2 linked regions of the Homo sapiens genome follow. The protein of the gene in region 1 purifies or fractionates together with the protein of each later gene. This does not show direct contact. Each region holds a gene or a part of one and is shown on either strand. Other genes may lie near its edges.

Region 1 (3,500 bases):
TGAGATCTCACTATGTTGCTCAGTCTGGTCTCAAACTCCTGGTCTCAAGCAATCCTCCTTCTTTGGCCTCCCAAAGTGCTGGGATTACAGGTGTGAGCCACTGTGCCAGCCAAATATAAGATGTTAACAGAGGAAACTGAGTGAGCCATATATAGGAATTCTATGTAATATCTTTGCAACTTTTCTATAAATCTACAACTATTCAAAAATCTAAAATTTTATTTTTTTTAATGATCTGAGGCCTGCCAATAGCCATGGGAGTGAGCTTTTAAGCAGATCCTACCCTAGTTGACCCTTGAGATAACTGAAGCTCCAGCTGACATTTTAATTATACCCTTATAAGAGACCCTAGGCTGGGCATGGTGGCTCACGCCTGTAATCCCAGCACTTTGGGAGGCCAAAGTGGGTGGATCACATGAAGTCAGGGGTTCAAGACCAGGTGGGCCAACATTGGGAAAACCCGTCTCTACTAAAAATACAAAAATTAGCCAGGCTTCGTGGAGCATACCTGTAATCCCAGCTACTCAGGAGGCTGAGGCTGGAGAACAGCTTGAACCCATGAGGCAGAGGTTGCAGTGAGCTGAGCACACCACTGCACTCCAGCCTGAGGGACAGAGTGAGATTCCATCTCAAAAAAGAAGAAAAAGAGATCCTGGGCTAGAAGCATCCAGCTAAGCTGCCCCAAGATTTCTGATCCACAGAAATTATGAAATAATAAAAGTTTGTTGTTTTAAGCTGTTAAGTTTTGGAGCAATTTGTTACACAGCAATAATAACTAATAGAGTATACTTCCTTTTATGTAGAATATTCAGAAGTATCCCCCACAAAAACACTGGGATAATTTGCATTCCATTTGTTTGATAGTTATATTCTTCACTGTAAATAATAAATTCTCATTCTAGTTTTTACAACAGATTCCACAGCAAATTTACTTAGCCTGAGGCCATCCCAAAAAACTTATTTTGAAGTATAAAAGCAAAATATATGTCAATGAATGCCAAATCTACATTCCTATCCAGATTAATTTCCTACTAGACACATTCACTCGGACAGTACATGGCATCTCAAAATCAACACACCCGATATTCCTGTATTTCCTATGTCAGTTAAAATTCTCAGCATCCAACCCTAAGCCAAAAATAATTCATCCTTGACTTCTTTTCACTCACCCATGCACAGCCTTTCTACTCAAGCACTAAACCCTGCTGATAAATAGCTCCTAATTTTCTTTTTTTTTTTTGAGATAGAGCTGGGACCACAGGTGTGCGCCACCATGCCTCGCTCTGTTGCCAGGCTGGAGTGCAGTGGCACGATCTGGGCTCACTGCAACCTCTGCCTCCTGGGTTCAAGCGATTCTCCTGCCTCAGCCTCTCAAGTAGCTGGGACTACAGGTGCGCGCCACCATGCCCAGCTAATTTTTGTATTTTTTGTAGAGATGAGGTTTCACCATGTTGGCCAGGATGGTCTCGATCTCTTGACCTCATGATCTGCCCACCTTGGCCTCCCAAAGTGCTGAGATTACAGGTGTGAGCCACTGTGCCCAGCCAAATATTTCTTAAAGAGAGCCTCCTGTATCTATCCCTAATACCATTGCTCTAGTTTAAGTATTCATCATCTCTACTGGTCCTTCTCCTAGTCTTCTCTCTTCTTACCCTCCCAATATCTACCCTCCACACTTTATTTATTTATTTATTTATTTATTTATTTAGAGACAGGGTGTCACTCGCCCAGACTGGAGTGCAGTGGCACAATCTCAGCTCACCACAACCTCTGCCTCACAGGCTCAAACGATTCTCCTGCCTCAGCCTCCCAAGTAGCTGAGATTACAGGCATGTGCCACTATTGCCCGGCTAATTTTTGTATTTTTAGTACAGACAGGGTCTCACCATGTTGGCCAGGCTGGTCTTGAACTCCTGACCTCAAATGATCCACATGCCTTGGCCTCCCAAAGTGCTGGGATTACAGGCGTGAGCCATCATGCCCAGCCAACTCTCCACACTTTAATCAGAACTATCTAATTAAAACACTACATCTGGGCTAGGTGCAGTTGCTCACACCTGTAATCCCAGAACTTTGGGAGGCCGAGACAGGCAGATCACGAGGTCAGGAGTTCAAGACCAGCCTGGCCAACATGGTGAAACCCTGTTTCTACTGAAAATACAAAAAGTAGCCAGGTGCGGTGGCAGGCACCTGTAATCCCAGCGACTCGGGAGGCTGAGGCAGGAGAATTGCTTGAACCCGGGAGGCGGAAGTTGCAGTGAGCTGAGACTGTGCCACTGCACTCCAGACTGGGTGACAAAACAAGACTCCGTCTCAGGGAAAACAACAAAACAAAACAAAAACCCACTACATTGGCCGGGAATGGCGGCTCATGCCTGTAATCCCAGCACTTTGTGTGGCCAAGAGAGGTGGATCACTTGAGGTGAGGAGTTTGAGACCAGCCTGGCCAACATGGTGAAACCCCGTGTCTACCTAAAAATACAAAAATTAGCCAGGCGTGGTGGTGTATGCCTGTAGTCCCAGCTACTCAGGAGGCTAAGGCAGGAGAATCACCTGAACCTGGGAGGCAAAGATTGCAATGAGCTGAGATCACGCCACTGCCCTCAAGCCTGGGAAACACAGTGAGACTGCATCTCAAAAACAATACAAAAAAACCCAAAAAGCACTACATTGATCATCAATCTTAAAAGCCAAGCTCCATAGGGTAGCACACAAACTTCTCCAAGATCTGGTTCCTACCTACTTCCTTATTTTACAATGTTTCACCTGCTTAGAGTTTCCACTTCTGCCGTTATTTTGTACATCCATGCCTTGGATCTTACTGCGTCCTCAACTGTAAATGCTTTTCCTATTTTTCATTGCCCCACTAAATTTTACTTATCCTCCAACACTTAACTCATGAGTTGTCTCCTTCAGAAAGCTTTCTCTGAAGCCCTAGACTGTGTGAATGGCCAGATTCTGTGCTCCCCAAACACTCTGTGCTTACCCTATTTTGTCACTTGCTACAGTTTAATGTAATTTATCTATGTAATGGAATGTATCTGTATGCTCTTGAAAGTCAGGGACAGGTTCACTTTATGTACGTGCATTTTTTTTTTAGCTCATCCAACATTATAGAATGTACTTGATTTTTCTGTTTTGTTTTGTTTTTGTTTTTTGAGATGGAGTCTTACTCTGTTGCCGAGGTTGGAGCACAGTGGCGCAATTTCGGCTCATTGCAACCTCCGCCTCCTGAGTAGCTGGGATTACAGGCATGCAGTATCATGCCCGGTTAATTATTTTTGTATTTTTAGTAGAGACGTGGTCTCACCATGTTGCCCAGGCTGATCTTGAACTCCTGATCTCAAGTGATCCGCCAGCTTCGGCCTACTAGAGTGCTGGGATTACAGGCATGAGCCACTGTGCCAAGCTGTACTTGTATTTTTTATGGATGGATGGAAACATATACTGACCTACTAGGAATTCAGTAATGCTCTCAAATCAATTTCCATTTATTAATA
Region 2 (4,019 bases), on another chromosome or scaffold:
GAGATCGCACCACTGCACTCCAGCCTGGACAAGAGTTAGACTCTGTCTCAAAAAAAAGAAGAAGGAGAAGGAAGAAGAAGAAAGAAGAAGAAGAAAGACTGAATGAAAACAGGGAGAGGTTAATGGGTCTGGGAGCTCTTAAACCCTAGGCCTGGTTTCTGACACACCATCAGCAGACCCACCTGGTGGACAGGGGCGGTAGGGAGTTCTGCCCTAGGAGGACCACCAGATTGCCCGGGGCAGCTCCTGCCTTTGGCCCCCATGTCTGCCCTCTCCCCACTGCCCACCGCAGTCTCAGACTCTTAAGGGTACCTCTGTGAGGGGTCGAGGCCGTTTCTCCACTGCAAACTCCGTGTGGCACAGCTCGCAGTAGCTGGTGTTAGATGAGGAAAGCCACTTCTCCAGACAGCTCTTATGCACGGCACCCAGCGTGCCGGTGCAGCCACACGGGGACAGCAAGCACTCCCCGTTCGCTCCCTCATGGCAGATCCGGCAGAAAGGACCATCACTGGACACAGAGATAGGACCCATGAGCAATGATTGGGCTTTCTGTCTATACCTGCTTCACTACCCACTGGATCACAAGCTCACCCTTACCCCATGCTGCCACTTAGTGAACTCCTACTCATCCTTCAATGCCCAGCTCTAAATGTCCTTCCCTTTGGGAAGGAGATGCAGGGAAGGTAACCTTGCGAAGCCTTCCCAGACTCCCACAGGTGGAGTGATGTGTTCCCTTCCCAGGGACCCTGCAGCACCCTCTCAGACCCAAGATGGGCATCTGTTATACCCGCCCCCATGTCCTCTCCAAATTTCCCTAAAATACCCACCCTGATTGTCCTGCACAACTTCCCCACCCTCAACTCTTTTTTTTTTTTTTTTTTTTTTTGAGACAGAGTCTCGCTCTGTCACCCAGGCTGGAGTGCAGTGGTGCGATCTCGGCTCACTGCAAGCTCCGCCTCCCGGGTTCACGCCATTCTCCCACCTCAGCCTCCCGAGTAGCTGGAACTACAGGCACCTGCCACCACGCCCGGCTAATTGTGTTTTTGTATTTTTAGTAGAGACGGGGTTTCACCGTGTTAGCCAGGATGGTCTCGATCTCCTGATATTGTGATCCGCCTGCCTCAGGCTCCCAAAGTGCTGGGATTACAGGCGTGAGCCACCGCACCCGGCCCCCAATCCTCGACTCTTAATCCTCAAAGACCAGCTGGGTGAGGTGGCTCATTCCTGTAATCCCAGTACTTTGGGAGGCCAAGGCAGGAGGATCATGAGGTCAGGATTTCAAGACCAGCCTGGCCAACATGGTGAAACCCCGTCTCTACTAAAAATACAAAAATTAGCTGGGCGTGGTGGTAGGTGCCTGTAATCCCAGCTACTGGGGAGGCTGAGGCAGGAGTATCACTTCAGCCTGGAAGGCAGAGGTTACAGTGAGCCGAGATTACACCACTGCACTCCAGCCTGGGTGACAGAGTGAGGCTCCGTCTCAAAAAAAAAAAAAAATCCTCAAGGACTAGGGCAGAGCAGACAACACTCCTCATGACCTCAGGCCTCATACTGGACCAGTCAGAACACCAGGCCGGGAGCAGTAGCTCATGCTTGTAATTCTAGCACTTTGGAAGGCTGAAGCGGGAGGATCACTTGAGCCGAGGAGTTCAAGGCCAGTGTGGGCAACCTAGTGAGATCTCATCTCTATAAAAAAAAAATTTTCTTTTTTTTTTTTTGAGATGGAGTCTCGCTCTGTCATCAGGCTGGAGTGCAGTGGTGTGATATCAGCTCACTGCAACCTCCACCTCCCAGGTTCAAGCGATTATCCTGCCTCAGCCTCCCGAGTAGCCTCAGCCTCCCGAGTAGCTGAGACTACAGGCACATGCCACCATGCCCAGCTAATTTTTTTTTTTTCTGTATTTTAGTAGAGACGGGGTTTCACCGTGTTAGCCAGGATGGTCTCAATCTCCTGACCTCGTGATCTGCCCGCCTCAGCCTCCCAAAGTGCTGGGATTACAGGCGTGAGCCACCACGCCCGGTCCCAAAATTTTTTTTAAAGACTTATCTTGGCGTGGTGGTACATGTTGTGGTCCCAGCTACTTGGGAGGCTGAGGCAGGAGGATCACATGTGCCCAGGAGTTCAAAGCTCCAATGACCCATAATTGTACCACTATACTCCAGCTTGGACAACAGAGTGAGACCATTTGAAAAAAAGAAAAAGAAAATAGAACAGCACGCACCCCTGCTCATGCAACCAACTCAGGCTTGTATGATACCATCAGAGTCACCGATAATCTATTCCTAAAATTCTTTGTTTCCCCGTAAACTCCAGAACTGTCGGCCACAAGGCTGACAGAAGCCTGGAGCTCCTGCAGCTGCCTAGTCTGTGTGGAGCCTGTGAATGATGCCAGCACAGAGGAGAGCAGAGCCAAGAGACAGGGAAAGGTAGATTTTTTTTTTTCTTTTTTTTGAGACAGTGTTGCTCTGTCACCCAGGCTGGAGTGCAGTGGCGCGATCTCGGCTCACTGCAAGCTCGACCTCCCAGGTTCATGCCATTCTCCTGCCTCAGCCTCCAGAGTAGCTAGGACTACAGGCGCCGGCCACCACGCCCGGCTAATTTTTTGTATTTTTTGTAGAGACGGGGTTTCACCGTGTTAGCCAGGATGGTCTCGATCTCCTGACCTCGTGATCCACCCGCCTCGGCCTCCCAAAGTGCTGGGATTACAGGCGTGAGCCACTGCGCAAGGCCTGGGAAAGGTAGATTCTTAAGGACATCTTTGCGGGCCCCTGGATCTAATCACACCTGAAGCCCGTGCTACCTGAGAAACCTGTGCATCCAGAGAGAAGTGCTCACCTGCTCCTCTGCCCTTGTGAGGGGGAAATAGAAATAAAAAGCATCTGCAGAAAGCTGCCTCGGAAAAGTCTCCAGCCCTGGCCCAGTCTCTGGGGATGCCGGGTCCTTCCCAGGGCAGCTCAGGAGGCAGGGGGCGTGGCCCAGAGGCCAAACAGCCATGAGTCACTGTTTCCCAAACATTTCTGGCCAGAAGGCAGACTGTGAGGTCACACAAAGAAGAGCTATTTTCCAGACAACGCCAATTTCCTCTCAGAGAGACTGTATTTTTTTTTCTTTCTTTTTTTTTTTTTTTTTTGAGTCACCCAGGCTGGAGTGCAGTGGTGCAATCACAGCTCACTGCAGCCTCGGACTCCCTAGCTCGAGCGATCCTCCTGCCTCAGTCTCCCGAGTAGCTGGGACTACAGGTGGCACCACGCCACACAGCTAATATTTTTTAACTTTTTCTAGAGAGGGGGGTCTCACTATGTTGACCAGGCTGGTCTTGAGCTTCTGGGCTCAAGCGATCCTTCAGCCTTGGACTTCCAAAGTGCTGGGACTACAGGCATGAGCGACCACGCCTGCCTGGAAATGACTGTTTTCTATCCTTTTCTCAGATTCTCATGCTGCGGGGTGGAGTTGGGCGGCTTTAAAAAGAGCCCAACAGGCTGCTCATGGCTGCTTTCTCAACAGTCCTGTCCCTGGACTGCTATTTCCTCCTGCAATGGCAAAAGGGCATGCCTGCCTGCCTCCTTTCTGAACCCATACCCCGATCCCACCCTCCCCCAAGTACACACACAAACAAAGTTAACAAAAAAGGAACCCTTTGTCCGGAAACCAACCCAGGGAAACAGAAGTGACGAGAATCTTGAGGAAGAATCATGTCAGTTTGGAGCTTGTTCTGGGAAACTGTGAAAAAGTTTGGGAGAGCAAATTCAGAGAAGAGGCCAGGCACAGTGGTTCATGCCTGTAATCCCAACACTTTGGGAGGCCGAGGTGGGTGGGTCATCTGAGGTCAGGAGACCAGCCTGACTAACATGGTGAAACCCCGTCTCTACTAAAAAAATACAAAAATTAGTCGGGCATGGTCGGGGCGGGGGGGCTGTAATCCTAGCTACTTGGGAGGCTGAGGCAGGAGAATCGCTTGAACCCAGGAGGCAGAGGTTGCAGTGAGCTGAGATCATGCCACTGCACTCCAGCATGGGTG

The links.
Region 2: the proteins of PBLD (region 1) and MARCHF2 purify together in Homo sapiens (affinity purification with western blotting, with the first as the bait; one study listed by BioGRID). This does not show direct contact.

What each region holds. Positions count from the first base shown.
Region 1 is NC_000010.11:68,322,929-68,326,428, forward strand, and holds part of PBLD (phenazine biosynthesis-like domain-containing protein), read right to left. Parts: intron 1-3,500.
Region 2 is NC_000019.10:8,423,098-8,427,116, reverse strand, and holds part of MARCHF2 (E3 ubiquitin-protein ligase MARCHF2), read right to left. Parts: intron 509-4,019; coding exon 313-508; intron 1-312. UniProt on the Homo sapiens protein: E3 ubiquitin-protein ligase that may mediate ubiquitination of TFRC and CD86, and promote their subsequent endocytosis and sorting to lysosomes via multivesicular bodies.